4 separate regions of the Homo sapiens genome follow, and regions 1, 2 and 3 are each linked to region 4. The links come from fine-mapping of genetic effects on gene expression. A gene starts in region 4. Each other region holds a variant in brackets. All regions are shown on one strand. Distances are between the middles of the regions.

What was found.
Region 1: its variant is fine-mapped to the expression of EVA1B in whole blood (INTERVAL, PIP above 0.99).
Region 2: its variant is fine-mapped to the expression of EVA1B in whole blood (INTERVAL, PIP above 0.99).
Region 3: its variant is fine-mapped to the expression of EVA1B in whole blood (INTERVAL, PIP above 0.99).

The regions. Positions count from the first base shown.
Region 1 is chr1:35,812,203-35,820,344 of GRCh38, reverse strand. It overlaps AGO4 (argonaute RISC component 4), which reads right to left. Exons shown (of 18, transcript NM_017629.4): 2 at 3,298-3,463. Among named protein-coding and RNA genes, the nearest start is that of AGO4, 8.3 kb to the right of the region's middle. The variant G/TG (reference allele first, on the strand shown) is at 3,547.
Region 2 is chr1:36,292,717-36,300,716 of GRCh38, reverse strand. It overlaps THRAP3 (thyroid hormone receptor associated protein 3), which reads right to left. Exons shown (of 12, transcript NM_005119.4): 8 at 6,782-6,866; 9 at 3,947-4,134. Among named protein-coding and RNA genes, the nearest start is that of SH3D21, 9.7 kb to the left of the region's middle. The variant G/A (reference allele first, on the strand shown) is at 4,583.
Region 3 is chr1:36,256,540-36,264,649 of GRCh38, reverse strand. THRAP3 (thyroid hormone receptor associated protein 3) reads right to left here. Exons shown (of 12, transcript NM_005119.4): 2 at 5,166-5,268. Among named protein-coding and RNA genes, the nearest start is that of THRAP3, 36 kb to the right of the region's middle. RefSeq lists silencers at 3,795-3,951, 6,981-7,040. The variant G/T (reference allele first, on the strand shown) is at 5,024.
Region 4 is chr1:36,320,533-36,328,674 of GRCh38, reverse strand. EVA1B (eva-1 homolog B) reads left to right here and starts at 5,030. Exons shown (of 3, transcript NM_001304762.2): 1 at 5,030-5,216; 2 at 5,608-5,704; 3 at 5,950-6,645. The coding sequence starts at 5,638. The coding sequence ends at 6,380. It overlaps SH3D21 (SH3 domain containing 21), which reads right to left. Exons shown (of 16, transcript NM_001162530.2): 14 at 7,877-8,142; 15 at 7,697-7,760; 16 at 7,328-7,619. The coding sequence ends at 7,548. RefSeq lists silencers at 4,763-4,992, 5,083-5,442, 5,503-5,552, 5,643-5,832 and enhancers at 4,877-5,761, 6,648-7,532.

The DNA of each region.
Region 1 (8,142 bases), 510 kb after region 4:
TTCTTAATCTCAGTTTCTCCCCGTCTGAACATTCTATTTCTGTGCTCCCTTTTGTATCAAAATCCCTTGAAGGAGTTGTCTGTAATTCCTCTTCCCCTTTCTCCCTTGAACTTTCTCAAGTAAGGCTTTTTCTCTACCAAACTACTGTTATCGACGTCCTCCAGTGGGCTCCATATAGCTAAATTCAATGCTCCTTGAACATTAGATAATCCATCCTTCCAACTTAAAACATCTTCTTCCTTTGCCTCCAGAGCACCACTCCCTTGGTTTTCTCCTATCCCAGTGGTCTCTCCATGCCAATCTTCCTGCTGATACTTCCTCATCGCCTTTAATCTTTCAGTTAAATCTTTAAATATTGGAGTGCTTCAAGACCCAGTGTAGGAGCCTTATTTTCTCCACACACACTCACTTTCAACATAATCTCATCCAGTCTCATGGCTTTATCATCAATAAGCTCATGATTCTCAAATGTTTGTCTCCAGCCTCGAACTGTTCCCTGAATCCAACCTTAATACTGTATTCAACCTCCTTTTTTTTTTTTTTTTAAGACTCAGAGTCTCACTCTGTCACCTGGGCTGGAGTGCAGTGGTGCTATTTTTTTTTTTTTTTTTTGAGACAGAGTCTCACTCTGTCGAATAGGCTGACGTGCAGTAGCACGATCTCAGCTCACTGCAACCTCCGTCTCCCGGGTTCAAGTGATTCTTCTGCCTCAGCCTCCCGAGTAGCTGGGACTACAGGCACACACCACCATACCATGACCAGCTAATTTTTGTATCATTAGTAGAGACAGGGTTTCACCATATTAGCCAGGCTGGTCTCAATCTTCTGACCTCGTGATCCACCCACCTCGGCCTCCCAAAGTGCTCACATCCAAAGATGTGAGCCACCGCGCGCGGCCTTTTGTTTTTTTTAATATAGACAGAGTCTAGCCATGTTGCCTAAGCTTGCTGCAAACTCCTGGCTTCAAGCAATCCTCCCACCTCAGCCTCCTAAAGTGCTGGGATTACAGGTACGAGCTACCACAGCCGATCTCCACTAGCATGTCTAATAGTCATCTCAACCCTGATGTCCAAAACGCACAGGTCTCCTGATCTGCTACTCCCTGCTTCTGCTTCTCTTGCAGTTTTCCCCATCTGATAAATGACAACTCCTTTTTTTCCAGTAGCTCAGGACATAAACCCTGGAATTGATCATGACTAATTTCTTTCTTTCACACCACATGTTCAATCCATCAGTAAATCTTATTGACAGTAGTATGAAAATATTTGCAGGATCTGACCACTTCTCATCACTATCAATTATACTACTCAAGTCTAAACCACCATTACTTTTCACCTGAATCATTCCAAGTGCCTCTTAATTAATTTCCATGCTTTTCACCCTTACCTGCTAGGGTCTAATTTCAGCACAGCATCCAGGGCAATCCATTAAAAATATAAGTTTGTCATGTCTTAGATTTATTTAGTCACGTTGTGGGTTTAGTATTTAAAACTCACCTAACCAGAATAAATGACAAAGTGTTATGAATGCCTACAAGTTCTGCATGATAGAGGCCTTCTGAAATTTCTCCAACCTCATCTCCTATCACTCTCCCCCACTCACTCACTCCAGCAATCCAGAATTATCTGCTGTTTGTTTCTTTCCTTCCTTCCTTCCTTCCTTCCTTCCTTCCTTCCTTTCTTCCTTTCTTTCTTTCTTTCTTTCTTTCTTTCTTTCTTTTTGAGACAGAGTCTCCCTCTGTTGCCCAGGCTGGAATGCAGCGGCATGATCTCCACTCACTGCAACCTCCGTCTCCCAGATTCAAGTGATTCTCCTGCCTCAGCCTCCCAAGTAGCTGGGATTACAGGCACGTGCCACTATGCCCAGCTAATTTTTGTATTTTTAATAGAGACAGGGTTTCACCATGTTGGCCAGGCTGGTCTCGAACTCCTGACCTCAAGTGATCTGCCCGCCTCAGCCTCCCAAAGTGCTGGGATTACAGGCATGAGCCATCACGCCCGGCCTGCTGTTTCTTGAACTCACCAAGCTTCTGACTTTGCCTGGGACACTCTTCATGCAGATATCCCTCACCTCCTCTAGGTCAAATATCACTTTTCAGTGAGACTTTCTCTAGGTATTTGCATACGTATATACATATACATACGTGTGTGTATATCTACATATGCATGTATATGTATATATAAACATATATATTCATTCATATATAAATCTCAGTGCTCATCCTATCCCCATTTCCTATCTTCCATCTCTATTTTCTTTTTCTTTATTGCATTTATTACCAACTAATAAAATACATGTTTTGTTTGCTTCTTCATTTATTGTTGGTCTTCCCCATTAGAATATACGCTCCTCAAAGGTAGAAACTTTTGCCTGTTTTGTTCATGGTGAATTCCCAGAGCACAGGGCAATACCTGGCACAAAATAAACATTCAATAAAATATTCGTTGGATGGATCAATGTTATCCATTACCACCACTTCTACTACTATTGATCTCAGTTACACAATAGCCAATAATGGGTTTACAAGAGAATGAACTACACCAGAAAGCCAAATTTTGATCCATAATGAGAAAAATATCAAGCGGCACAAAATATTTAACTTGACAGCAAAGAGCAATCTTAAAAAAGCAAGAATCTTAATATCAAATATTGCCTGAATGTCACTGCATAGAAACAGAGAAAACAAAAGTGGATGTATACTCAGCACACTGTAAGAATATTTGCTACAGGGCTGTCTTCACACCAGGTAAATTCCTGCTATACAGACCACAATACTTACATCATCTCATCAGGACCACTCTTAGATAATGCTAGAAATAACTAGAGCTTCTCTCTGTGCTTAGTTTTCTCAGTACTCCAAGATGACTTTTCTTTCTTTTCCCCCAAGAAAAAATCTGCAAGTAATCTTCTGTATTGATATATATATATATATACATCTTTCTCATGTCCAAAACCAACATATAATAATAAAAATTGAATTTCCAGATAGTTCTATTTCCCACAGACACTAATGTCTTCACCTATTTTAGTAAATTTTTGCTACCCTTGGTCAATGAAAGAGCGACCTTTCTTTTCCATAATTAAATAAGTGTTTACTGATTGACTAATAATATATCCAGCACTTTGCTAGAGCCTACAGAGGATAACCAAGCATGAGACAGCAAACCTGCTATTAAGAAACCTATCATCTTAGAGAATAACAAAGCCTACATGTTGGATGAATTTAGAGAACAATATGATACATAAATAAATTATATGCACTTAAATATACAGAAATCCACTGTTTCTAATCCTTACCTGTTGACTCTACGAGGCCGTTTTTCAGGCTTAATATCCACATCATAGTGATACACATCTATTTTAGGAATCTGAACCTGAAAATGATTGGCTAACAGTCGAATTGGTTTTCCAACAGTTCCAAGGCCAGGACGACGAGGTGGCTGAAACAGGCTAGCCGGAGGTCCTAAAGAGATTGAAAGACATTTGCTGTGCTATTTTTTTTTTCTTTTTCTTTCTTTCTTTCTTTTTTTTTTTTTTTTTTTTTTT[G/TG]AGACAGAGTTTCGCTCTTTCACCCAGGGTGGAGTGCAGTGGCTTGATCTTGGCTCACTGCAACCTCTGCCTTCCAGTTCCAAGCGATTCTCCTGCCTCAGCCTCTCCAGTAGCTGGGATTACAGGAGCCTGCCACCAGGCCTGGCTAATTTTTGTATTTTTAGTAGAGACAGGGTTTCACCACATTGGCCAGGCTGGTCTAGAACTCCTGACCTCGTGATCCACCTGCCTCAGCCTCCCAAAGTGCTGGGATTACAGGCGTGAGCCACCGCACCTGGCCTGCTGTGCTATTTATTCTTCTTCTTCTTGATGATGATGATGATGGCTACAGTTATTGAGATCTTATTATTCACTGTATGTACTCTAATATAAAGAATCTGGGGTGTCTTTCGACCTAAGGTTCTCTAGATTTCTAAATATTTTGCCAAGTTGCTATTATTTTTAACATAAGGACATCAAAATTAGAATGATGAATTCCTCTCAAGTATAGGCTACAGTATAAAATCTTGCATGAGCATTAGTAAAGCTCTATAGCTAGACTTACAAAATTATATGCATTTTAAAAACTATCTCTAAACTCTGGAGCCACCATCCCCAGAGTTGGAAATGACCTACTAATCTCTCACAAATTAGCCTGCATCATTATAAATTGTACATATAGGAGAAGATTAAACCACAGCTCTATTTATCAATTTATTTGCTAATTTCGATAGTGAAACAATACCAATAAAGCTAGACCTTCTCGTTTATAACTTGATATTTTTAGAACCTGGACAATCTGAGATTTCTTGCTCATAAGATCTAGTTTATTCCACAGACATTTATTCATTTATTCAGTTATAACATGCCTAACCTGTACTATGGACTCAGAATGAAGACAGAGCCCCTTCTTTCAAAGAATGTACAGTCTAGACCAGTGGTTCTCAACCCGGGGCAAATTTGTTCCCCAGGAAACATTTGGCAAATATATGGACACATTTTTGGTTGTCACAACCTGAGAAGTGCTGCTGGCATCTAGTGGAAAGGACCCAGGATACAGCTACGCATTCTACAATGCATAAGATAGCCCCCCACAACAAAGAATTACCCAGTCCAAAATATCAATAGTGCTGAGAAAGAGGTTGAGAAACCCTGATGTAGATAGAGTAATATTTCCAAACTATTTCAAAAAAGAAAAGATTCTATAAGTTAAAGAAACCTTGCATACTCTCTCCCCTCTTAAAATTTCAATGCATATTATCATATTAAATTATCTAAAAAGTCATGTAATAAATAAACCTAGTTAACTTTACCTCATCATTTAGCTAACTGTTTTTTTTCCCCACAGAACTCTCTCTCTCTCTCTAAGATTTGAACATCTATTAATACTCAGCAGAAAAAGATCTTGTGGAGCACAGTCTGGGAGACACTCGTTTAGAGAAAATCTTACTCCTTTTTGATGACAATATCAAGTGGATACTGGCCTAAAAAATGAACATCTTTTCTGCTATGAATAGGCACTGAGCAAAGTGGGCTGTGGTTACAATGGAAAGTTACAACAGGTTCTGTTACTGCAATGGCATTTCACTGAGAACAAAGACTTCACTAAGGAGAGAAAACTTGGAAGCAAGAAGTTGTTCTGGGCCAGGCGTGGTGGCTCACACCTGTAATCCCAGCACTTCGGGAGGCCAAGGCAGGCAGATGACCTGAGGTCAGCAGTTTGAGACCAGCCTGGCCAGCATAGTAAAACCCCGTCTCTACTAAAAATACAAAAATTAGCCGGGCACGGTGGTGGATGCCTGTAATCCCAGCTACTCAGGAGGCTGAGGCAGGAGAATCGCTTGAACCCGGGAGGCAGAGGTTGCAGTGAGCTGAGATTGTGTCACTGCACTCCAGCCTGGGCGACAGAGGGAGACTCAGTCTAAAACAACAACAAAAAGAAGTTGTTCTGTTCCAACATCACTTAGGAAAATTAGAGCAAATACTTTATGATATTTATGGTTACAGATCACCATATTCTAACACTTAAAGTATTAAAAATCATTTTACATATTAATTATTCATTTTCCCACTATATTCTACTTATCCTTCAGAATTAGGTTTAGATGTAACCTCCTTGGAAAGCCTTTCCTGATTCTCCCAGACTAGAGGATCCGTCCTCTGTGTTCAAAAGACTCTCTCTATAGGGGAACCCATAGAGCAAGTATAAGAAACCACTTGTTAAGTTACTCTGTCTCCTTCACTAGATTGCAAACTCTTATAAACACCGCATGTTCTCACTCATAGATGGGAATTGAACAATGAGAACACTTGGACACAGGAAGGGGAACATCACACACTGGGGCCTGTTGTGGGGTAGGGGGAGGGGGGAGGGATAGCATTAGGAGATATACCTAATGTAAATGATGAGTTAATGGGTGCAGCACACCAACACGGCACATGTATACATATGTAACAAACCTGCACATTCTGCATATGTATCCTAAAGTATAATAAAAAAAATTTAAAAAAAAGAAATGAACCTCCTATTAATCTTCTCAATATCTAATGCAACAGCCATCATGTTATAAGAATTCAATAAATGTTGAACTGAACAGTATCAATAATCCCAGATAGAATCTAAACACAAAAATCATAATTATCTTTCTTTCTCTCTCCTTCCTTCCCTTCTGTCCTTCCTTCTTTCCTTCCTTCCTTCCTTTTTTCTCTCTCTCTTCTTTCTCTTTCTCTCTCTTTTTTTTTTTTGAGATGGAGTCTCACACTGTTGCCCAGGCTGGAGGGCAGTGGTGCGATCTCGGCTTACTGCAACCTCCGCCTCCCGGGTTCAAGAGATTCTCCTGCCTCAGCCTCCCAAGTAGCTGGAATTACAGGCACCCGCCACCATGCCCAGCTAATTTTTTGTATTTTTAGTAGAGACGGGGTTTCACTACATTGGCCAGGCTGGTCTCAAACTCCTGACCTTGTGATCCGCCCACCTTGCCCTCCCAAAGTGTCTCTCTTCTTCTTCCTTCTTCCTTCCTTCTTCCTTCTTCCTCTTCCTCTTCTTCTTCTTCTTCTTTTTTTCTTTTTTTGAGCCAGGGTCTTGCTCTGTTGCCCAGGCTGGAGTGCAGTGGGTCAATCATGGCTCACTGCAGCCTCGACCTCCTGGACTCAACTGATCCTCCCACCTCAGCCTCCAGAGTAACTGAGATACCACCCCAGCTAATTTTTGTATTTTTGGTAGAGACGAGGTTTGGGGTTTTGCCATGTTGCCTAGGCTGGTCTTGAACTCCTGGGGTCAAGCAATCTGCCCACCTAGGCCTCCCAAAGTGCTGGGATTACAGTCATGAGCCACCACGCCCAGCTGACAATTATTTTTCAATGAAGCAAAAGCACATAATTTATACTAAAAGTATTCTTTTTTTTTTTTTTGAGATGGAGTCTCGCTCTGTCACCCAGGCTGGAGTGCAGTGGCACAATCTTGGCTCACTGCAAGCTCTGCCTCCCGGGTTCACGCCATTCTCCTGCCTCAGCCTCCCCAGCAGCTGGGACTACAGGCGCATGCTGCCATGCCCGGCTAATTTTTTGTATTTTTAGTAGAGACAGGATTTCACCATCTTAGCCAGGATGGTCTTGATCTCCTGACCTTGTGATCTGCCTGCCTTGGCCTCCCAAAGTGCTGGGATTACAGGCGTGAGCCACTGCGCCCGGCCCACTAAAAGTATTCTTATTGCTTGGAGTTGAGTTCTACTTCTAGTGTACAAGAGGACCTATCAATACAATTGATAAGACAATTACAAACAAGGTAACAAGGTAAGAAGTAAATAGTAAATAATGTGAGAGGTGATAAACATACTGAATTAACCCAATTAAATCATAAAAATAAGTCAACTCTGCATATTTCAAGATACACTTAAGCAATCACTGTATCATTCATAAAGTTGTAAGAGGCCAGGCACAGTGGCTCATGCCTGTAATCCCAGCACTTTGGAAGGCTGAAGCGGGCAGATCACCTGAGGTCAGAAGTTTGAGACCAGCCTGGCAAACATGGCAAAACACCGTCTCTACTAAAAATACAAAAATTAGCTAGGTGTGGTGGTGGGCACCTGTAATCCCAGCTACTCGGGAGACTGAGGCAGGGGAATAGCTTGAACCTGGGAGGTGCAGGTTGCAGTGAGCCGAGATCATGCCACTGCAATCCAGCAAGGGTGACAGAATGAGACTTGTCTTAAAAAAAAAGAAAAAAAATGTTGTAAGAAATATAGCTTTATAATAGAAATTTGAAAACAGAAACTTGGATCAAATGACTTGCTTAAGGACATACGACTTTGAGTTTAAATACTAACTAGAATCCAAATCTCCTAACTCCTAGCCTAGCACTTTTTCTTCCCAATATACTTCATAATCTTGTGATATGTATTATTATCTGAAGTACTTGAATGTCAAAGAGGCAGAGGCAGAAGAATTGAAAGAAAAACGATTAAGAAGTGGCAAAAAGTAAATATTATTTGTATCTCCTTTCCTTGGCAAAGAGAAAAGTTAGATGGTGAGTGATAATTTCTTTTAATAAGCTTAGAAGATTTAGTTTGAAAATTATAACTTTTTTCATTCTGGAAGTTAATTTTTTTTTTCTTTTTT
Region 2 (8,000 bases), 28 kb after region 4:
TTCCTCTCAATTCTGTCAGTCATGTTCAGTGACACATCTATGTCTGAGTCTGTGATAAACATATGACATACATAGAAGCAGGAACAAAACACAGTCCATGGCCTCCAGGAGCTCAGTCTAAGATACAGGCATGAATTAATAAGGGAGAAGGAAATTAACACTATATTGAGAGCTCCAAAGTATCTGGTACTGGGCCAGATAAATAGCTTTGTATATTATCATCTGTTAGTGCGTTCTATTACTTTTATTTCTTACAGGAATGCTACCTGTCTTACAGGGTTCTCTAAATAAACACTGTGTTTAAACACTTTACACCAACATAGCTGGCATGCAGTAAAGGACAATACAACTCAGTATTATTTCCCTCATTTTACAGGTAGGAGGCTCAGGTGAGAGAAGCGAGCAGAGTCTGGATTCTAACCTAGCTCTGACTAATTATACCACGACTCCACATATTACCTCCCACTGAGCTCAAACAGGTTGTGTGACTAAGCCTAGGATCTGGCGCAACTCTCCCAGAGTTATTTCCCTTCCCTTTCCTTCATCTAGGGGAAATTACAGACTAGGGCAAATTAGCTTAATACGATGAGTCATTATCTATGTACTAAAGTCAGTACCAGCCCTGCCATGTGATAGTGGAGGTTACTGAATACCTCTAGGGGGCAGCAAGGCCAGGATCCCAGGAGTGGAGGAGTAGCAGAGCCAGCCAAATGTCAGTAACCTATCATTGTCCTTCCCTCCCTCAGTCTTCCATTATGAAAGGCATCATGCTCCCTGCTCCTCACCCACACACACTTATTCATACAAAGGGGAAATCTAAGTTACTGTGATAGGATTCATGTAACTTCAACTCTGACCCCACTAAACATCCGTGCTATTTCAAGAGGTTTTCAAAAATAAGAGTCTCTGGCCGGGCGTAGTGGCTCTCTCCTGTAATCCCAGCACTTTGGGAGGCCAAGGCGGCTGGATCACTTGAGGTCAGGAGTTCGAGACCAGCCTGGCCAACATGGCGAAACCCCATCTCTACTAAAAATACAAAAATTAGCTGGGTGTGGTGGAAAGCATCTGTAATCCCAGCTACCCAGCTACTCAGGAGGCTGAGACAGGAGAATCACTTGAACCCAGGAGGCAGAGGTTGCAGTGAGCCGAGATCATATCATTGCACTCCAGCCTGGGTGACAGAGCGAGACTCTACCTCAAAAACAAAACAAAACAAAAAAAAAAGACTCTCAAAAGGCCTCAAATTTGAGTCTTTGCATTGTCTTTTTTTGTTGTTGTTGAGATGGAGTCTCACTCTGTCGCCAGGCTGGAGTGCAGTCGTGCGATCTCGGCTCACTGCAACCTCCACCTCCTGGGTTTAAACGATTCTCCCGCCTCAGCCTCCTGAGCAGTGGGGATTACAGGCACCCACCACCATGCCCGGCTAATTTTTGTATTTTTAGTAGAGACAGGGTTTCACCATGTTGGCCAGGATGGTCTCAATCTTCTGACCTCATGCTCCACCCACCTCAGCCTCCCAAAGTGCTGGGATTACAGGCGTGAGCCACCGCATCCGGCCAGCATTGTCTCTTATTAGCTGTGTCACCTGGGTAAGTCATTCTTCAGTTATATAAAAAAAGTTCTGGCTGGGCACAGTGGCTCATGCCTGTAATCCCAGCACTTCAGAGGGCCAAGGCAGGCAGATTGCTTGAGCCCAGGAGTTCTAGACCATCCTGGGCAACATGGCAAAACCTCAACTCTACAAGAAATACAAAATTAGCCAGGCATGATGGTGTACACCTGTAGTCCCAGCTGACTGTGAGGCTGAGATGGGTAGATCACTTGAGCCCAGGAGGTCAAAGCCACAGTAGGCCAGTGATTGCATCACTGCGCTCCAGCCTGGGCGACACAGCAAGACCCTGTCTCAAAACGGGCCAGGTGTGGTAGCTCATGCCTGTAATCCCATGCTTTGGGAGGCCAAGGAGGTGGGTGGGAATCACTTGAGGCCAAGAGTTCAAGACCAGCATGGGAAACATAGCAAGCCCTCGTCTCTACAAAAAATTTTTAAAAATTAGCCGGGCATCATGGTGCATACCTGTACTCCTAGCTCAGCCTAGTTGGAAGGCTGAAGCAGGAGGATCACTTGAACCCAGGAGTTCAAGGATGCCGTGAGCTATGATCGTGCCACTGCACTCCAGCCTGGGTGACAGAGCAAGATCGTCCAAAAAAATAAAAAATAAAAATAAATAAATCACAGAATACCGGGGTTTGCAGGGGACTTGTTCAAAGTCACATCGCAAGTCAGAGGTAGGCATGTGTTCCAGGGAGAGGAAATCAGAGTTAGTAATTCAGACTCAACTCTGAAATGCTTGAGGGGTTCATGTTCCACTTCTAAGTGGCGGCCCAGGCACTACTGTACTACCACTTCCATTCCCTGCTGAGGATTCGCAGGTTCTTTATCTATGGGCGGCCCCAAAAGCTGCCAAGGCTCCTAATGCATAAGTAACACATTGGAATGGGAGACAAAGTATAACAAAAGATCCGTGTTTGAGGTCAGCTGATACTTGTGATTTTTTTTTTTTTTTTTTTTTGAGATGAAGTCTCACTCTGTCGCCTAGGCTGGAATGCAGTGCTGAGAACTCGGCTCAGTGCAACCTCCTCCTCCCAGGTTCAAGCGATTCTCCTGCCTTAGCCTCCCGAGTAGCTGGGATTACAGGCGCACGCCACCATGCCCGGCTAATTTTTTTTTTTTTTCAGTAGAGACAGGGTTTCACGATATTGGCCAGGCTGGTCTTGAACTCCTGACCACGTGATCTTCCTGCCTCGGCCTCCCAAAGTGCTGGGATTACAGGCATGAGCCACTACACCCGGCCAATACTTGTGATCGTAAGGCACATTATTCTAAGCTTGGCTTATCTTTCAAATGGGCAAAATGGATATCACACCAACTGTTCAATTTATCTCAAGGGGTTATGAAAAACTGATATAAAAACGCGGCCAGGCATGGTGGCTCATGCCTGTAATCCTAGCACTTTGGGAGGCCGAGGTGGGTGAATCATGAGGTCGGGAGTTCAAGACCAGACTGGCCAACATGGTGAAACTCCATCTCTAAATACAAAAAATTAGCTGGGCGTGGTAGTGGGCACCTGTAATCCCAGCTACTCAGGAGGCTGAGGCAGGAGAATTGCTTGAACCCGCGAGGCGGAGGTTGCAGTGAGCTGAGATTGCGCCACTGCACTCTAGCCTAGGCAACAGAGCAAGACTCCATCTCAAAAAAAAAAAAAAAAAAAAAATGCTTGCCAGCTAAAGTTCAAAATCAGCAGAAGTGTTGCTTCTTACCAGAAGGTATGGGGCTTCAACTGTGCTACTTTTCGTGACACATGATTAAAAAGTCATGGAACATTCAAAAACGTAAACAGAAACATCAGGACATAGGCATGAATGTTGCCACACAAAGTTCAACAATGCCACCTTTGTTTAAGGAGTACCTGGAACACCTCTCTTGGAACTGTCTGTAAAACTAGTTTAAAAGGCACTTAAGATCAACAATCATGTACTATCTAGTTCCACCCTGTTTCTTTGACTAAACAGTGTTATTACTTGACAATGACTTTGGGCCATTTCTAAAATACAACTTCCCCATGAAAATGTGTGATGAAAAAGGTACATCTAAAACTGCAAAAGGAATTCCCAAATGATTCTAATGATTCTCCACACCATCCCTGTGGTCAATTTAACAGATTAACTTCTCTCATGAAGCCTTCTTTGGACAAAGATCACACTATTTTGATGTAGAAATTGTTTTCAAACTAGGGACCCTACCTGACATTTACATGGATTAAAAGAAGAAACAGGTTGCTATAATTACTAACCCTAAACTCCTCTGATTTGAAAGTTCTGGTGTATAGCCCAAAGGGGACAGACAAGAAACTTAAGAGTCTGGAAGGGGTAACAGGGGCTTACGTACTTCTGTTTCTTTGATCCTTTATGAGTTTTCTCTGTTTTTTCAGCTGACCTTTCCCTTGAGTGACTGGAGTCTCGGGAATCCACTGATTCTCTCGATTTACCTCGTTTAAGATCTCTCTCCTTATGTTTTTTACGACGTTCAATATCAAGGCGGAGATCAACAGGATCATCTTTGTATTTTCCCTCAGCCTATCAAAAGATAAGCCAAAATTAAGGTTTCTGGGATTCAGAGCTGTCAACTCAACCATCCCACAAACTGTGGTTTTTACTCCAATGGAGGGGTGCAGAGGAAGCACTGGGAAATGTGAGGCATCTCACCCAAGCTTGGAAGGGATGCAGGATGTCCCACAGAAGTTACTCCATAAGGATCCCTCACAGAACCCACGCCAGTCCTCCAAAACAATGATGCTGGCCTTCTGAAAATGCTATGCATTGATCTCACTTTGTTTCCTTTCTGGCCCAGTAATGACTCTGGCTAGTTTAGAAGTTGAGAAGGCTGGCCAGGTGCAGTGGCTCACGCCTGTAATCCCAGAACTTTGGGAGGCCGAGGCAGGCGGATCACTTGAGCTCAGGAGTTCAAGACCAGCATGGGCAACAACCAAAACCCTGTTCTCTACTAAAAATACAAAAATCAGCC[G/A]AGCAAGGTGGCGTGTGCCTGTAATCCCAGCTACTAGGGAGGCTAAAGCAGAAGAATCGCTTAAACCCAGGAGGTGGAGGTTGCAGTGAGCTGAGATCGCACCACTGCACTCCATCCTGGCCAATAGAACAAGACTATCTCTCAAAAAAAAAAAAAAAAAAAAAAAAAAAAAAAAAAAAAGTTGAGAAGGCTAAAATTAGCTCTGGAAAAGTAGGTGGTTGGGCTGGCTCAGGATTAGCCACCACTAAGAGTAGAAAAGCTCACCTTCCCCTACCTATACTGTAGTATCCACCCATGGCTTATCCTCCACTTGGAATTATCTCTGAGTACTGAGTCCAAAGAGAGACAATGGAAGACTTAAGCAGCCTTCAAAACCCTGAGTTATACTGACAAATTTCTCTAGAAAGGGAATATCAAAAACTATGGGGAATTCATAAACTGGTATTATCAGGTGAAAGGAAAGGGAAAGGAAGGGGAAGGGGGAAAGAAACCAAAGAAACAGGGAGAAAGGGAGGAAGGGAGGGAAGAAGGAAGGGAGGGAGGAAGGAAGGGAGGAGGGAAGGAAGGAAGGAAGGAAGGAAGGAAGGAAAAAACTTCTCTGCTGGCTTCCTAAGCAGTTCAGCTATGAAGGTATGTTTTGCAGCAGCAACAGCACACCTGCTCAGACCACTGCAGCAAAGGCTTTCAACAATTCTTGGGAAACTCGGTGGGGCAAAGGTGCATGGTAGTTCCGGGACATCCCACACTAGGATTTGTCTCATGGAGGTAACTCAGGGAGGAAGAAATGAGCAGTTCATTCTGCATTAATAGTTTACATATGTGAACTACTAAACTTTTAAAAAAAAAAGTTTAACAGCAGGAGTGGCAGAAACTAGGTTTATTCTTTTTTTTTTTTTTCCTTTTTTTTTTTTGAGACAGAGTTTCACTCTTGTTGCCCTGGCTGGAGTACAATGGCGGGATCTTGGCTCATTGCAACCTCCACCTCCCAGGTTCAAGTGATTCTCCTGCCTCAGCCTCCCAGGTAGCTGGGATTACAGGCATGCACTACCACACCCGGCTAATTTTGTATTTTTAGTAGAGACGGGGTTTCACCATGTAGGTCAGGCTGGTGTCAAACTCTCGACCTCAGGTGATCCACCCACCTCGGCCTCCCAAAGTGCTGGGATTACAGGCTTGAGCCACCTTGCCCGGCCGTTTATTGTTTTATCACTTAATTTGTTTCCTAACAGAGGGAACTGGGCCTCTGCATCCTCCAAAGAGCAAAAAAAGACAAAAAGACAAATGCAACACTGCTCCCAGGGGTAACACCTCCAATGAGTTGGCTTTTTTGGGGCATGGAGGACGAGATCTCTTCTGATGTTTTAAAGAAAACCTTGGGTTTTACATGGCTAGTACAAAGCTGGAGAAGGGGTACTCGGAGGAGGAAAGACGGGTGGGAGAGAAGAGAGACTGCCCAGAAGCGCCTCTCATCACATTCAACCAACAAAACAAGTATTTTTTAGAAAAGGTTTCAGCAGCATTGGAATAACCATCTGTTATTTTAAATTTCAACTGTATATGTGAATGAAGATCAATAAATACTAAGATTTTTTTAAAGCCCAATTTAGTTATTTCACAGTAACAGATTGTATACAAGCTTTAACCTCTTAACAGTGTTTACGTGCACATCATTGCAAATGTAGCTGGGCCATCAAAGTAATCTTTAGCTTTAAAGTAACAGTAATTGACAGATGATAGATATGGTACAATGTTAGGAAAAAAAACTGGACCAGCTGTTTAAAAACAGTCTACTTAAGTTAAGACATGAATATTTCACTCTTCTCTGACATGCATGTCTTTCTGAAATCATGGTTGGAAATAGTGCATGTATACAGTTGATTTGATAATACTTACAAGCAGAAAAATATCACAAAAAGTTTCTTCTCTCATCATGGGCACTTGTTCCAAAACTCCTCTCTTTTTTTTCTCAAGCTCACCTCAATAGACTTTGGGGTCATTTACCATATTCTAACCACTTCACAAAGGTTGTTGATACATTTAATAAAAATTAACCCTTTGTAGTTCATTTTTAGAATTATGCCCATCCTTAAAAGAAAAACACAAACTTAAGTAGAGAGTAATTTAAACAAACACATTTCTGTCAAGTTCATGCCCAACGCACTCATTTTGTTGGAATTACTGATCAAATCAACAGTTCACCTTGTAGCCAGGTTCCCGGGGACTTTTCATTTCATCATGAGCCAAACCATGTTTTCTGAATGTACTGGGGGAAATGTCTATTCTCCTAAAATTGAAAATACAAAACGATATAGTATTCCATTGTGTGAATATGATACTGGTAATATTCTAGCTCTTAAGTTGGCTAATAGATTCACAGGCATTATTTTTCCTTACGTTTCATGACTTATGTATCTATTACTTTTACTCTTATATACTTATACTCTCCCATAGGCAGACACACACACACACACACACACACACACACACACACACAGTCCCAGGTTCCCACAGTGTAACAGAAGTTAGAGGTTTTTGTTCTCTCCTGGTTTTGCTACACACAGAAAGATGGACTCACCCATAGCCTCAAAGATAAGGCCAACTTTGTTTCTAGTCCCTATCCACTGAACTGACTCCCACAACCAAATGTAATAGTCTTTAAACCTGCTGGGCTTTAAAATTCTGTGAGATAATCCTACAAGCTCCCGCCTCTAGCCCCCAGGCAAATTCTTCCAGAAGAATCCAACTACCCATGATTAAACTACCATGAAATATTAATATACAGGCTTACCTAAAGAAACTAGCATTAGGCTGGGCGCAGTGGCTCACGCCTGTAATCCCAGCACTTTGGGAGGCTGAGGCGGGCAGGTCACCTGAGGTTGAGAGTTCAAGACCAGACTGGCCAACATGGTGAAACCCTGTCTCTACTAAAAATACAAAAATCAGCTGGGCATGGTGGCACACGTTTGTAATCCCAGGTACTTGGGAGGCTAAGGCATGAGAATTGCTTGAACCTGGGAGGCAGAGGTTGCAGTGAGCCGAGATTGCATCACTGCACTCCAGCCTGGGTGGCAGAGCAACACTCCATCTCAAAAAAAAAAAAAAAAAAGACAAGAAAAGAAACTAGCATTTACTCTACCTACAGAAACTCACAGTAATTTCAGGCAACATTTGCCAGCTTCCAAGAATATAGGAGTTAATCTATGTCAAGAGAGCTGTTTTCCTCAGGCCCAATGTGAGAGACTGTTGTCCCAAAGCATGTCCTGTACACTCTCAAATATAAATGCCTATAGCTCTCTTAGAGTCTGAAGGATGTTACTGTAAATTTTGTATTAAAGGTGCATTAGCAGCAGAATTTAACAAGGTGAGTTTAATGTCTGATACAAAGTCTTTTATTACAACCTCCAGTATAAGGCCATGG
Region 3 (8,110 bases), 64 kb after region 4:
ACTGAGACTAGAATCCACGTTCCATTCTGGGCTGTCCATATGTCCATAATACAGTGTTACTTCAAGAGGGGCACTAAGGTGGGTGTTAGGTGAGGAAATACACTAAAGCAAATTATCATTCTAAAATGCTCAGTCCTAAATGGACAAGTCACTTTGTAATACTGGGCCAGGTTCGGCAGTAAGTAGAGGCTTTGGTAGCAAAAACGAACTGGGTTCAATCTTGGCTCTGCCACCCATTCCTGGACAAAATACTTAACTCTCTCCATCTTCCAAATGTGACCTACACCTTACAGGACTGCCAGGAGAATTAAGGAAGCACATACACAGTGCCTGACACACAAGTGAGTAAACACCTTAAACTATGTTTAGCCACAGAACCAGAGTGGTTGGAGGGAGAGATTTAGGAACTTCCCTGGGAGTAAACAGATTTCATAACTGATTCTATTTTCTTGCTATTTATTAAAACCTGCCTACAAGAAGGAGAATGGCGTGAACCTGGGAGGCAGAGCTTGCAATGAGCTGAGACTGCGCCACTGCACTCCAGCCTGGGCGACAGAGCGAGACTCCGTCTCAAAAAAACAAACAAACAAAAACCAAATCTGCCTACAAGTAATAAGTGATCAGGTATCTTCCTACACAGCAATAAAGCATTTTATATCTTTCCTGGCTAAATTAGCATGTGTCACACTGAAGAGGTGTGCTAGAAGGAAAGGTCGTATTATCAAGAAAGACCTAAGTCAAAAGGTCACATTCACCTTTGGAAGACAAATCTCTTCGATGCTGGATGTTAGCAGGGAAAATCAACAGCAAGCTAAAAGTTCACTTAGAACTTTTTCATCAAAACATCCCCAGTGTAAGCAACTTGAGATACTCCTCTGAGAATTCAGTCAATGCGTGTCTATTAAGCTCAGGATCATCTATGCAATTAATCATTGGGGAAACAAAATGAATAGCACAGCTGGCGGCTTAAAAAAAATATTCAATTCACCCCAGAGGCTCCTCTCCTATGTCTCTCAGGGACAGTAACAGTAATTTTAGCCCCCATTTTAAATGAGTATGTTACCATTGGGGAATATTTTCTTCTCAATTCTTAAGAGAAATTCTCAGCTTTCCTAACTTAATAAAGACACTATAATCTATATTAACTAACGACCTGTGGTTTCCTTCCAGCTCTCATTATGATAAATCTTTTCTAAGCTAAATTAAGCAGCCAATCATGACACTTAACTATTTTTAAAAATGGAATTATTGTCCAGGTGCAGTAGCTCACCCCTGAAATCCTAGCACTTTGAGAGGCCAAGGCGGGTGGATCACTTGAGCCCAAGAGTTTGAGACCAGCCTGGGCAACATAGTAAGACCTCATCTCTACAAGAAATACAAAAATTAACTGGGCATGGTGGCTTGTGCCTATAGTCTCAGCTACTCAGGAGGCCGAAGCAGGAGGATCACCTGAGCCTGGGAGGTCAAGGTTGCAGTGAGCCGTGATCAAGCCACTGCACTCCAGCCTTGGCGACAGAGCCTCCAAAAAATAAATAAAATAGGCCGGGTGCAGTGGCTCACGCCTGTAATCCCAACACTTTGGGAGGCCAAGGTGGGCAGATCACGAGGTCAGGAGATAGAGACCATCCTGGCTAACACAGTGAAACCCCATCTCTACTGAAAATACAAAAAAAAAAAAAAAAAAAAAAAATTAGCCGGCCCTGGTGGCGGGCGCCTGTAGTCCCAGCTACTTGGCAGGCTGAGGCAGGAGAATGGCGTGACCCCGGGAGGTGGACTTGTAGTGAGCCGAGATCGCGCCACTGCACTCCAGCCTGGGAGACAGAGCAAGACTTCATCTCAAAAAAAATAATAATAATAAATAAATAAAATAAAATAAAATAAAATAGAAGCATTACTATTAAAGCCTTGGGCTAAACACTGATAAATACTGTAATCACCTACAGAACTTTAAAAAAATATCCATCCATCAAGATTCTAATTGAAGAAACTGAGAATGGGATTCAGAGCCAGTGGGCCATGGACATTCTTTGCAGATCACCCCCATACTGATATACAGACATCCACTGTTTACAAAGAGTTCTACATAAAGCCTGGATAGAACTACAGTAGGAGAAATAAGCTGTTTGACAGCTTTTACAGACAATGGTCTTTTTAAGATCAAATCATCTTCCCAAAGATGATCACATGGAGGTTTAGAGGAGGAAAAAAACGTGTGTGTTAGATTTATTTTGTTTTATATTACTATATCACTGTTTTGTATTATGTTTGGAATGTGGCAGGCCATCATTCATTAACTTAATCATACTAGTTTATCTGTTCCTTCAGAAGTATGAACTCTTAGAACTGTACCATCCAATACATATGTAGACTCAGCACGTGAAATGTGGCTGATCTGAACTGAGATGAGCTACAGGTATAAAATAAACATGGGATTTCTAAGGCTTGGTATAAACAGAAAGTAAAATATCTCACCATTCTTTATATCACTTATATGTTGAAATAAGAATGTACTGGATATATTGAATTATATAAAACATATCGTTCAAATTTATTTCATCTGTTTTTTTAAATGTGACTACTAAAATGTATTAAATGACATGTGGCTCACATTCTTCTTTTGAGCAGCACTGTCCTTGAGAACAACGATGATTATATCTTCAAATTGAGAACCCAATCTAGTACTGTCCAGTCACTTTTAGATTTGTCATTTATACTTGCCATTTCTAGTCTCTACCCACTAAGCCTTTCCTGTTGCAGTAACTCTCCACATGAGTTTGGGGGAGCAGCGGAGATGTCTTAAATACAAACACAACTCTACGTAAGAGACCAAAAATGATTTAAAGATCTACTACCATTTTGGATCATACTAATCATCTAAGTTTACAAAAGAAATCAAGGAGAACCCGACCGGTTGCTTCCACTTAAAATTATTTAAAATACTACTCGAAGCTATCTAGAGACACCAACTCCACCTCAGGTAGATCCACACACTCAACCAGAACTTAGTCCAGATACATGTGATCAGTGTAGTTCGTCTCTCTGGGATTTCCTTTTGGAATAGCATATGAACTGCTTACAGAAATGGCTCTAATTTTTTATTTTATTTTTACTTTTTTTGAGATGGAGTCTCGCTCTGTCGCCCAGCCTGGATTGCAATGGCGCGATCTCAGCTCACTGCAAGCTCCGCCTCCCGGGTTCACGCCATTCTCCTGCCTCAGTCTCCCGAGTAGCTGGGACTACAGGCGCCCACCACCGTGCCTGGCTAGTTTTTTTGTATTTTTAGTAGAGATGGGGTTTCACCGTGTTAGCCAGGATGGTCTCGATCTCCTGACCTCGTGATCTGCCCGCCTTGGCCTCCCAAAGTGCTGGGATTACAGGCGTGAGCCACCGCACCCGGCCTAATTTTTGTATTTTTAGTAGAGATGGGGTTTTACCATGTTGGCCAGCTGGTCTCGAACTCCTGGCCTCAAGTGATCTGCCCTCCTCGGCCTCCCAAAGTGCTTCGCTTACAGGTGTGAGCTACTGCGCTTAGCCCAAGATAAAATTTATAATATAGCCAAAATGCTTAAATGTATTGTGGAAGATTTACACTTATGGTTAGAGTTTAGGGAGAAATTACTGATAAAGACATAGAAACTAAGCAAAATAGACAAAAAGATTATTAAAAACAGAAAACAAATAGTTGTACAAAAAAGGAAAAGTAAACACAACATGTAAAATGACTGGGCTGTGAATAAGCGCTACGTAATCATAATAATGTTGTAAACCATGATACTGCCATGACTAAAATTATATTATAACCAGAGTGCCTTTTTTTTTTTTTTTTTTGAGACGTAGTCTTGCTCTGTAGCCCAGGCTAGAGTGCAGTGGTGCGATCTCAGCTCACTGCAAGCTCCGCCTCCTGGGTTCACACCATTCTCCTGCCTCAGCCTCCAGAGTAGCTGGGACTACAGGCGCCCACCACCACGCCCGGCTAATTTTTTGTATTTTTAGTAGAGATGGGGTTTCACCGTGTTAGCCAGGATGGTCTCGATCTCCTGACCTTGTGATCCGCCCGCCTCGGCCTCCCAAAGTGCTGAGATTACAGGCGTGAGCCAGGTGCCTGGCCCCAGAGTGACAATTAATGTTGGCATGTGAGGTGGTCAGGTAAGCCTACCAAAAACGACCACTATTTAAGGAGTGAAGTTAATAAATAATAACAAACACTGTAAAGCAAAAGAGGCTTATTATTTAGAGAGATATACCAAAAGGAACTGGAGAGTTGAAAATGACTGCTTCTAAGGGGCTGGGAAGGGGAGTGGGGAAGGACTGCTGTTTTTCATAAAGAGCCCTAGGGAGCTGATGGTCTGGTATGTCTACTATAGTGTTTTTGCAAATATATACAGCTTTTGTTTGTTTTTGTTTTTCTGAGACAAGGTCTTGCTCTGTTGCCCAGGCTGGAGGGCAGTGGCAAGATCTCGGCTCACTGTAACCTCTACCTTCTGCATTGAAGTGATTCTCCTGCCTCAGCCTCCCAAGTAGCTGGGATTACAGGTGCCTGCCACCATGCCTGGCTAATTTTTGTATTTTTAGTAGAGACGGGGTTTCACTATGTTGGCCAGGCTGGTCTCGAACTCTTGACCTCAAGTGATCACCTGCCTTGGCCTCCCAAAGTGCTGGGATTACAGTCAGGAGCCACCACGCCTGGCCCCCAATTTTAATTAAAACAAGTATATATCCAAGTAACATAAGCATGAAAAGGGACTGCTTCCCAAAATATTAATGATTACAGATGTCAAGTTTACCGACAGCCTTTTTCAAACGAATACTGTTTCATAAGAACCCAGAACTTCCATTAACGAATCATCTGGATAATCAATTCTTTTTCTTTTCTTTTTTTTTTTTTTGAGACAGGGTCTTGCTGTCACCCAGGCTGGAGTGCAGTGGCATGAACATGGTTCACTGCAGTCTCCAACTACTGAGCTCAAGCTATCCTTCTGCCTCAGCCTCCCAAGTAGCTGGGACCACAGATGTGTATCACCAG[G/T]CCTGGTTAAATTTTTTTATTTTTTGTAGAGACAGGATCTCACCATGTTGCATAGGCTGGTCTCGAAATAATCAATTCTTAACGTAAGATTGGTTTTACAAATTAGTGAAGTTATTAGTTTCTTTTACCACCATGCTTTTACCTTATTTGAACAATGATTCAACTCGTACTGGATCCCAGACACTACCCCAAAAGAACACCCGCAGCACCACTGGCTTCTTCACTTTACAAGTCAGCATACACTTCTGAAATGAGAGAAAATAAGTAGTGATAAAATGGCTACCCAAATGCAGATTCTGTTACTGATGCTCAAAATCTATAAACACAAACCCTACTTTAGCCCTCAGCTTTACTCCAAAAGGACCCAAGCTTTTCTCTCAAAGTATGAGATGGTCTGCCTCTGTCTGACAGGTTTTCATTCATCTAACCTCCTACAGTATGGAAAGCAAAAGCCTTCCTTACTGTAACCTGATACTTTCACTGGCAATATTTCAGGTGCTAAGGTTTTCATTATGCAAGACTAATTCACAAGCTCCACAAAACTCAACCTGGTGAACCTGACAAAAATCAGATGTTTAAAATAAGAAAGCAATGAACAGAAGTATATTAAAATGAATTTAACAAATGCATTTCAAGGTAAAGTAACTCTCCGTACCTACCCATAAAAGCACAAAAATTCCCTTCTGCTCCAGTTGTCTATTCCCAGATCTATGAACATGGTCATACATCAAAGCTATGTCCAGCGTTTTCCAAAACAAACAGGAAAAACAAGTTCCAAGACCAGCAAGCTCATGTAGGTAATTAGATGTCCTCACTCCTGCCTTATCAAAACTTTGTTGTTATTCTTATTACAGGGGCAGTGGCTCACGCCTATAATCCCAGCACTTTGGGAGGCCAAGGCGGGCGGATCACGAGGTCAGGAGATCGAGATCATCCTGGCTAATATGGTGGAATCCCGTCTCTAGTAAAAATACAAAAACAAAATTAGCCAGGCGTGGCAGCAGGCACCTGTAGTCTCAGCTACTCAGGAGGCTGAGGTGGGAGAGTGGCGTGAACCCAGGAGGTGGAGCTTGCGGTGAGCCGAGATCGCGCCACTGTACTCCAGCCTGGGGGACAGAGTGAGACTTCGCCTCAAGAAAAAAAAAAATTACTAACAGGATAATACTGTTTTATCCAGATGAGGCTTAGTATTCAGATCCTTTACCAAATAACAATGTCGGTATGTGTTTCTTTATTAATGTAAGTACAAATATAGCACTTTAAAAAACTCACTCAAAATACTTTTTCATGTCTTCTCGCTATGTATTCTTCTAATTCAGCCTAGGTTACATCAGCCAAAACTTCTTCCCCTGATTCCTCACTCCAGAGGCACAGAGGGCTCACATCAGTCAGCTCTGCCTAGCTAGTGAGGGAAATCCCATGTCTGCTACAGGACTGCAAACTGCTCTTATGCTGTAACATGTTGAATTTAAAAAACAACCTATTCCAAGCCGGGCGTGGTGGCTCATGCCTGTAATCCCAGCACTTTGGGAGGCCGAGGCGGGCGGATCACGAGGTCCAGAGTTCAAGACCAGCCTGGACAACATGGTGAAACCATGTCTCTACTAAAAATACAAAAAGTAGCCGGGCATGGTGGCACATGGCTGTAATCCCAGCTATTCGGGAGGCTGAGGCAGGAGAATCCCTTGAACTCGGGAAGCAGAGGTTGCAGTGTGCCGAGATCGTGCCATTGCACTCCAGCGTGGGTGACAGAGCGAGACTCTGTCTCAAAACAACAAAAAAACACAATCTATTCCAATACATCCATCTTTCCCTCTAATTCTAACCAGATGGCAAAAGTACACACACATAAATCTCCCATTTTATTACTCCATCATATTTCCTATTAATTAACCTCTTCTTGGATATTGGCAAGAATTTTATCATTCCAACAAGTCTTCAATTCCCCATTGTTGCGATGAGTGAATAAGCAAATCTGAGGCTCTGGCCTTTAGTTACTCTGTGACAGCGAAGAGACACCTGAAACCCTGAGTCACCCCCTGCCACCACAGTTGCCCTCCTCCTGCCTAGCCTGTCCTGCATGTCATCTGGCCAGCCACAGGCATACTTGTCAGCCTCTATCTCCTGAACCTCCTTTGGCCAAACAGCAGTGTATTAGCAAGGAGACTCCACAATAGACCCTCTTCCCTTCTACACATTACTAATTGTCCACTTATTCAACAAATAATTTATTAAGTACTGACTACATGCCAGGCACTATTCTAAACACTGGAGGTTCAATAATTTAAAAGTCCCTTCATGCCTGGAACTGACATTCTAGTGAGCAGATGAGGGCACCTGGAGGAGTAAAAGTTATACAATTTTATATCACGCATTAAGGGAAGGCCTCTCTCATGAGACAGCTGAGCAGAGACGGAAGAAAAAGAGTATACTGGGCCTTATCTGAGGAAACAGCAAATGCAAAGACCCTGGGGAGGAAACATGCCTGACTGTCTGAGGAAGAGACAAAAATAAGAATGTCTGCAATGTTGGCCAAGCGCGGTGGCTCACACCTGTAATCCCACCACTTTGGGAGGCCGAGGCGGGCAGATCACCTGAGGTCGGGAGTTCAAGACCAGCCTGACCAACATGGAGAAACCCCGTCTTTACTAAAAACACAAAAAATTAGCCTGGCGAGGTGGCTGGTGCCTGTAATCCCAGCTACTCAGGAGGCTGAGGCAGGAGAATCACTTGAACCTGGGAGGCAGAGGTTGTGGTGAGCCGAGATCGCACCACTGCACTCCAGCCTGGACAACAATAGCGAAACTCTTGTCTCAAAAAAAAAGAATGTCTGCAATGCAAACGGTTACCAATGAGCTGTTGGTAGATCAGGTCAGAAACACAGCTGAATGGACAGGGCCTTGCAATCAAAGTAAGGACTTTGGTTTTCCTCTGGGTAATGAGGGCAGCCACTGGAGTGTTTAGAGCATAAAATAGGAGCATAATTATGTTTCAAAATACCACAAACTGCAATGATACATGCTCGCTGCTGCGTGGAGAACAGATTTTAATGGGTCACAAATAGAAGAAATTAGTAGATAATGCCCA
Region 4 (8,142 bases):
TTAGCCTCCTGAGTAGCAGGAACTATAGGTGTGTGCTACCGTGTCCAGCTAATTTTTGTAGTTTTCTGTAGAAATGGGGTTTCGCCATGTTGCCCAGGCTGGTCTCAAACTCCTGGACTTCAGTGATCTGCACACCTCGGCCTCCCAAAGTGCTGGGATTACAGACGTGAGCCACCACACTGGGCCTATGATTGTCCATTTAGCAAATTTTTGCCAGTACCCTCTTTCCAGCAGCTGTCCCAGGTGCTGGGGTCATGGGGACACTCAAAGGACTCAGGAGGCCCCCGGTGAGTCTCCCTCTTCCCTCCATCCAAGACCTATCCCCGTGGTAGGGTGAGGCCCATGTCAACGGCAGAATAGCCAGGGCAAGCCTTCAGTTTGGCCACTGGGGCCGGGAGCAGAGCTGTGCTTGGGTTTGCACTGGGTCCTGAATATGCCAGCACTCACAAGTCCCCTCCCATAGGCTCTGGATCTCTCGGCCCCCCAACCTTCCATCAAGGCCTGTCCTTCCTGTGTTTCATCTTAGCAGTACTCTCCGTGCTTTCCAAGGTGACAAATCTCTAGTCTCACAGGCAGATAGGAGGGCAGAGAAGCAGTCAACAAGCAGGCAGGTGAGCAGACAGCAGATAAGTCCTGGGCAGATAGGCAGCGAGGAGGTAGGGAGGAGATGGGCAGGTGGATAGTTGGGATGAGGGCCAGAACAGCAGGTGACACACGTGCAGAGATCCGAAGCGGGTGGCTGGGCTGACCCACGGACAGGCTGGTGGGCTGGGGAGCAGCAGGCAGTCAAGCAGCTAGGCAGGGGGTGGGGAGGGCATGTGGACCATGGGGACAGCCACATTGGCCAAAGGTTTCAGGGACCTTCCCCAGGGCCTCCAGGAGCAGTGCTTCTCAAAACCCTCCAGGGCAAGGCTGCCGCTTCTCCCACCTGGCCTGGCTTGGCCACGGCAAGCCCCTGGAGAAGACAGCACTCTGGTTAATGTGCGTCCCTCTCTCTGAAGCAACCAGCAACCATCATCTCAACCCTCATCCTGCTCCACTAGGGCTGAGTCATACCTGACCCACTCCAAACACATATGTCACATACCAACCCAGACACAAACATACTTTTGCCTGCAGGCAGAGATACAGAGAGCTGCGTAGCACAGAGGTGCATGGAAACAGCTTGACAGAAACAGATCCAAAATTTTAGACTGCACATAGAGGAGCACACATGTGGACTCTCACAGACACAGGTCTGTGCCACATGAACTGAGGCACTGAGGCACACAACACACGTAGTCATACAAGCACACTGTAGCACACACCGATATTCCCGTGGATGGCAGGCATTAAACATGCTCATGCACTCCCAGCAATGCTGCACATAAATAAGCTACCTGTGCAAACAGTCACTGACATACACCCCTTGAAGAAACAGGAATACAACCCACAGAAACTCAATATTGCTGATGGTCTTCAAATCTCGGCCAAGGCAGTGGGCAAATTCTGGCCTCATCTTCACCTCTCAGCCCAATCACACATGGCTGATCACATCCCTGTTCTGGCCTGGTTCTCCTTGCTGACTTCACCTCCAGGAGACCCCTCAATGGGCTCGAGCTTCAGACCCTTCTCTCTCTGCCCCCTTACCCCAGATGTTCGGTCTCATCCACTTCTGGGGTGGTAAATCCATCTTATGTGGTAAGGACTCTCAAATATCATTTTCAGCCAGATTCCTGGGGGTTCTACTTGCATTGCCAACACCTGCACCTGGATATCTAATGGACATTTCAAGTCTAACCTATCTACAGTGAAACTGACTACCCCCAAACCTGCTTCCCCACATGGGCTTTCCTCAGGTGCCCCAGCCCAGTATGAAAGTGTTCTAAACTCCTCTCTCCCTCACATTCAAGTCCAGTGCAGGAACTCCCTTCAGAACACCACCTGAGTCTGAGCCCTCTCGCCTCTCCACCGGCCCCGCCCTCACTGGCTTGGACAGCTGCCAGCCTACTCACCACCCTCCCTGCTCCCCTTCTTGCCCACAGTGGCCCACCCTACACTGAGCCACCACAGGGATCTTTCCAAAATGTGTCACAGGGCCATGACACTCCCCTGCTCAACGCTCCAGGAGCTCCCCACCACACTTACATTAAAAACCAAGCTCCTGGCCGGGCACGGTGGCTCACACCTGTAATTCCAGCACTTTGGAGGCCAAGGTGGGCAGATCACCTGAGGTCAGAAGTTCGAGACCAGCCTGACCAACATGGAGAAACCCCATCTCTACTAAAAATACAAAATTAGCAGGGTGTGGTTGTGCATGCCTGTAATCCCAGCTACTCGGGAGGCTGAGGCAGGAGAATCACTCGAATCCGGGAGACAGAGGTTGCAGTGAGCAGAGATCGCGCCTTTGTACTCCAGCCTGGGCAACAAGAGTGAAACTCCGTCTCAAAAAAAAAAAAAAGAAAGAAAGAAAGAAAAAGCTCATCAACAAGGCCATCGAGTCCCTGCACGGGCAGCCCCTGCCACTCTCCCCTGCACCCACACACCATCTGCGTGGCTTTCTTCCCTTGGAGGGAGGTATCCCAAGCATGTTCTTACTCCTGCCCAGACACTCTCCCCAGATCCTGGCACAGCTGCCTCCTCCTTAGGATTCAGGTCTCACTGTGGATGTCCCTGTGAGAGCCACTCCCAGGTGTTGTCCATCGCATTACCCTATCCTGTCATGCCCCCCAGCACTTAGAAGCATCTGAGATTATCTTCTATTGTTTCTCCAATTTAGTGTCAGCTCCATGAGGGCAAGGATTTGTGTCTGTTCTGTTTATTGTTAAATCCCCATTAAAACTATTCCTCAGGGCTGGGCGCGGTGGCTCACGCCCGTAATCCCTGCACTTTGGGAGGTCAAGGCAGGTGGATCACGAGGTCAGCAGATCGAGACCATCCTGGCTAACATGGTGAAACCCGGTCTCTACTAAAAATACAAAAAATTAGCCAGGCGTGGTGGCAGGCGCCTGTAGTCCCAGCTACTTGGGAAGCTGAGGCAGGAGAATGGCATGAACCTGGGAGGCAGAGCTTGCAGTGAGCCGAGATCGCGCCACTGCACTCCAGCCTGGGTGACAGAGCGAGACTCCGTCTCAAAAACAAAAACAAACAACAAAAAAAAAACTGTCCCTCAGTATTCTCAGGGGATTGGCTCCATGACCTCCCTCCCATAGACACCAAAATCCAAGGATCCTCAAGTCCTTGATGTAAAATAAATTGGTTCAGTATTTGCATTTAACCTATACACATCCTCCTGTATACTTTAAATCATCTCTTGATTACTTATAATATCTAATATAATGTAACCGCTATGAAAATACACTATTGGCCGGCATGATGGCTCACACTTGTAATCCCAGCACTTTGGGAGGCTGAGGTGGGTGGATCACTTGAGCCCAGGAGTTCAAGACCAGCCTGGGCAACATGGCAAAACCCCATCTCTACAAAAATTAGCCAGGCATGGTGGTGCACGCCTGTGGTCCCTCCCAGCTACTTGGGAGAATGAGATGGGAGGCTCACTTGAGCCCAGGAGGTAAAGGTTGTGAATGAGCTGAGATAGCACCTCTGTACTCCAGCCTGGGTGACAGAGTGAGACCCTGTCTCAAAGAAAAAAAATTAAATATATCTATTGTTTAGGAAATAATGATAAGAAAAAAAGTCTGTACATGTTCAGCACAGATGCAATTTTGGTTTTGAATATTTTTGATGCAAAGTTGGTTAAACCCACAGATGCTGTGGACTAGACTAGGAAGTGCTAGGCATACACAGTATTTGTTGACTAGTGGCTGCACAGATTTATATACAGACATACCCGCCCCCACAACAATACTCAAATACATCACATTAATAGACAAATATACAGATGTGGGCAAAAATACCTGCCCGCACATTCACAGAACACACTAAACAGTCACAAAGACACCCAGGAGTCCCTTTTCCATCCCCATAGGAGTCAGTCCTAGTCCTCCCCCATCTAGATCTGCCCTCTACTTGAACCCAGTCTCGGGACTGGGGGAGTAGGGGTCTGCAGCCCGGACAGGGAGAGGGTCGCTGGCCCACAGGCCTCAGGCAGCGCCTTCAGCTATGTCTGCAATTTCCTCTCCCCCTTTCCTCCTCCTCTCTAAGGCTCCCGCCAAGGCGGCCTCCCCCTCATTCTAGCTCCAGCAAGGGAGGGGAGGTCCATGATGGGGGGGCCCCGTGGAGACAGGGCAGAAGGAAGCCCCCCGCCACACACACTGATCACACACCACATTGCATGCACAAGCCCAGGTGGGAAATGCGTGTGTGAGCACAGGCAGGTTTAGCCTTGGGGTGGGGGACGGGATGGGGTGGGATCTGCCACAAGCCGCCACAAGCTGCTTGGTGCACAAGAGCGCAGGAGCTCGCAGGCACAGAGGCCCCACGCTGGGGTCTGCGAGACTGCTGGCCGGGCCCTGGCTCAAAGCTGGAGTCCAACAATCATTAACCCTGCGTGACTAGACCAGAGCTCGGCCAGGGGACACATTCAAGCCTGGGCCCTGGAAGGAGGGGTGGACAGTCCCCTCCCTTCCAGTCCAGCATGGGTCTGGGGAAGAGAAGCAGCTTTGCCTGGAAGGGGCCTCCTAGGAGGGGGAGCGGTGGTTTCTAGCTCAGGCTTTAGGATCAGAGAGCAGCAGATTCAAATCCTGACGGTTTTGGTAAAGTCAATTCAATCTCTCCAAGACTCCGTTTATTTGATCTGCGAAGTGGGGATAATGGTATCACGTCGCAGGGTTGTCAGGCGGAGTAAGTGAAAGAACCTGTCCAAGGTTTAGCCCTTGGCCCGCACGCAGGCAGAGCTCCAGCCTCTCTGTTGTTGCTGTTAGTGGCCTGGGGGCGGGTCCCTGCCGCGGCCTCCCCGGCGGTTTCCTGTGGGGGACGGACGGCCCGCGGGCCGGGCTCTCCCTCCTCCCGGCTGCCCGCTCCTCTCCCCTTCCTCTCCCAGCCCTTTTCCTCCCCGCCTCCCCGCCCGCCCCGCCCCGCCCCGTCCCTCCTCTTTCCTCGGAGGAAACTTTCCGCCGGCTGGTCCCTCGGTCCGTGTCCCGCCCGTGCTGCCGCGGCCTGGGAGCCCAGCGGGGCCGGAGGGGCGGCGGGACCCGAGCGGGCGGGGGCGGCCGGACCCAGTGTATGCGGCCGCGGGACGCGCTGGGGCCGGGCAGCCGGGAAGCGGGGCGCTGACGGTGAGTGGGCCTGGCCCCGGGCCGGTGGGTCCCCGCGGGGCGGCCGGGCGAGGAGAGAGGCAGCTTCCCTTCCCGGAGCCCGCCTGGGGCGTGGAGGCTCAGCGTCCCTATCCTCCATCCCGCCCCGGGACGGCGGAACCGGGCCTCAGCTGGGGACCTCACCAGGGGGCGGGGCCTCCCGCGGTCCCCGGCGCTGCTCCCAGGACTGGAGGGGCGTCCGCGCCCGGGAGAGGGGTTCCCCCCGACAGGGCCCCGGGCCGCCACGAAGTTAGGGAAGCGCTCTCTCCAGGGTGGAACCTGGGCCCGCGGCTCCCGGGAGAGGAGCTGCCCGCGGAAGGGGTCGGGGTGGGCTCCAGGCTGGGAGAAGGATCTGACTTTGCTGACCTCGCAGGCTGGTAGGGGAGCTGCCCCCCAGAGCAGCATGGATGCCCCGCGAAGGGACATGGAGTTGCTCAGCAACAGCCTGGCTGCCTACGCGCACATCCGCGGTGAGGGCGGGCGCCGGAAGACTGGGGGCCTGAACCCTTCCCTGACCACCATCCCCTTCCCTCCCCAGCGCCTTGTCCGTCCCCTCCGCCCCGCTCCCCGCCCTCTTGCCCGCTGGCGGTTCCCTAATGCCCTTCGAGTAGGGGTTACAGGCCTCGCCCCCACACCTAGAACCTGGGGTCTTTCGGAAGTGGGACAACCCCCACCCGTCCGGGCCTCTCCGTGACCCCCGCCCTGTGCCCCGCAGCCAACCCCGAGAGCTTCGGCCTCTACTTCGTGCTGGGCGTCTGCTTCGGCCTGCTGCTCACCCTCTGCCTGCTCGTCATCAGCATCTCGTGGGCGCCCCGCCCGCGGCCCCGGGGCCCGGCTCAGCGCCGGGACCCCCGCAGCAGCACCCTGGAGCCCGAGGACGACGACGAGGACGAGGAGGACACGGTGACTCGGCTGGGCCCCGACGACACGCTGCCGGGCCCCGAGCTGTCCGCAGAGCCGGACGGGCCCCTCAACGTCAACGTCTTCACGTCGGCGGAGGAGCTGGAGCGGGCGCAGCGGCTGGAGGAGCGCGAACGGATCCTGCGGGAGATCTGGCGCACCGGGCAGCCGGACCTGCTGGGCACAGGCACGCTGGGGCCCAGCCCCACGGCCACGGGCACCCTGGGCCGCATGCACTATTACTGATGGGCCCCGGCTCCCGCTGCAAGGCGCTCGGGGTACCGGACCTGCACATGAGCTCAGAGCTACCCCACACCTTCGGACTGCCTCGGCCCCCACAGCTCCCAGGTGCTACTGGGCGTGGACCGCCACCCCCTGAGAGGCTCCCTTCCCCAGTCCTGCCAGAAGACCCCGGGGGCGGGGAGGGGGCAGCATGCAGGGTCCCCACTCCCTCTCTGGGGTCGATGAAGAGGTGAAGTGACCAAATGAAAGAAAGCTGCATTCTCAGTGACTCAGTCTCTCCCTCTGTTACTCCTGCCCCCAGCGACCCCCAGGCTCCTGCCACGCAGGGGCCCCAGGACTGAGGCCCAGCTTGACTCCCTTACCCTAGCTGCACCACCCCCACCCACCAACCCGACGATACAGCACACCTGCCCGCATTCACTTCACAGCCAGCAGAAAAGCAGAAGCCCACAGGCCTGCACCCAGCCTCACACACAGAGCAAGCGCGCGCGCATTCCTTATTCAAAACGCATTCCTTACCGGCAAACGCCTGGACACACGTCGCCCTGTCCCCACAGTGCCCTGGGTTCATACACTGCAATGACACACACACCAGGCCTCAGGACCCTGACCTCGAGGCTAAGGTGCTGCTAGCCCCGGTGTAAGCATGCGTGCTTGGGCTGGACGGTGGACTTCACGTCTGCGCCGAGGTGCGTTCAAGCGAGAGGGCAGGAGTCCCTCTGAGCGGACAGGGAGGCCAGCTGGGAGGGGTCCGAGCTGGCGAGAAGGCCCGCCCGGCTCCTCCCCGGCGCACAGCTGGATTCCGGAATCTAGGCCGGGCGTCAAGAGCCCGACCCCGCCTGGGCCCCTCCTGCCCGCCATTTCTCCAGTGCGCGGCTGGAGTCCGAAGGAGACACCCTCCCCCGCCCCTCACCATCCGGTGGATAAAAATAGCCGCGCGCAGGCCTTGGGAACGGTAATGGGAGCCACATGTTGGCCAGATGTGCCTGGGAGGGACCGTCAGGAATGCGGAGGCCCAGGCCCTGCCCCCGCGCAGGCCCCGCCCCCAGCGACCAGACCGGCGTGGCGCCGTGCTAGGCAGAGTTTACTTTCTCGCGTTTCCCAAAGTCGTGTGCAAGGACGTGGGTGGCCCCAGCCAGGTCAGGCCGCGGTCCCTTCCCAGGCCCACCCTCAGTAGGTCTGCGTCTGCGTGTGGATGACGCGCGGGGTCTGGGACTTCTGGGTCCCCTGCATCACCTGGACCTGGTCGGGAGTGAGGTGGAGACTTTGTCAGGGGGCCACTCGCCGTCAGCCCCCTCCCGCCGGGACCCGCGCCTCACCTCCAGCCGCCGGCGCTGCTCCTTCTCGCTCTTCAGCTCCTCCCAGATGTCGGTCAGCTTCCTCCTGCGGGCCGAGGCGGAGGTGAGGGGCTGGGCAGGTGAGGGCTGGAGGTGAGGGGCTGCGCAGGTGAGGGCTAGGGGGAACCCTACCTTCCACAACCCCCGCCACTGCCCACTCACTCCAGCTGCACCTCCATCAGCTCCAGCGCCCTCCTTAGAGACTCCACCTCGCCCCTCAGCGACGTTACATCAACTCCTTCATTCTTGTTTTCCGTGTAGTTTTGCGGGACCAGCGAGGGGAGCGCGAGCGTCTCTTGGGAGTCTGGAGGCGGCTTGATAGGACGTGTTTTTTGGGCAAAGGCTCTTTCTATGGGGGGCACCTCCTCTTTTGGAGCCACTTCCTCTTTAGGGGGCAATTCCTCTTTCAGGGTCACCTCCTCTTTGGA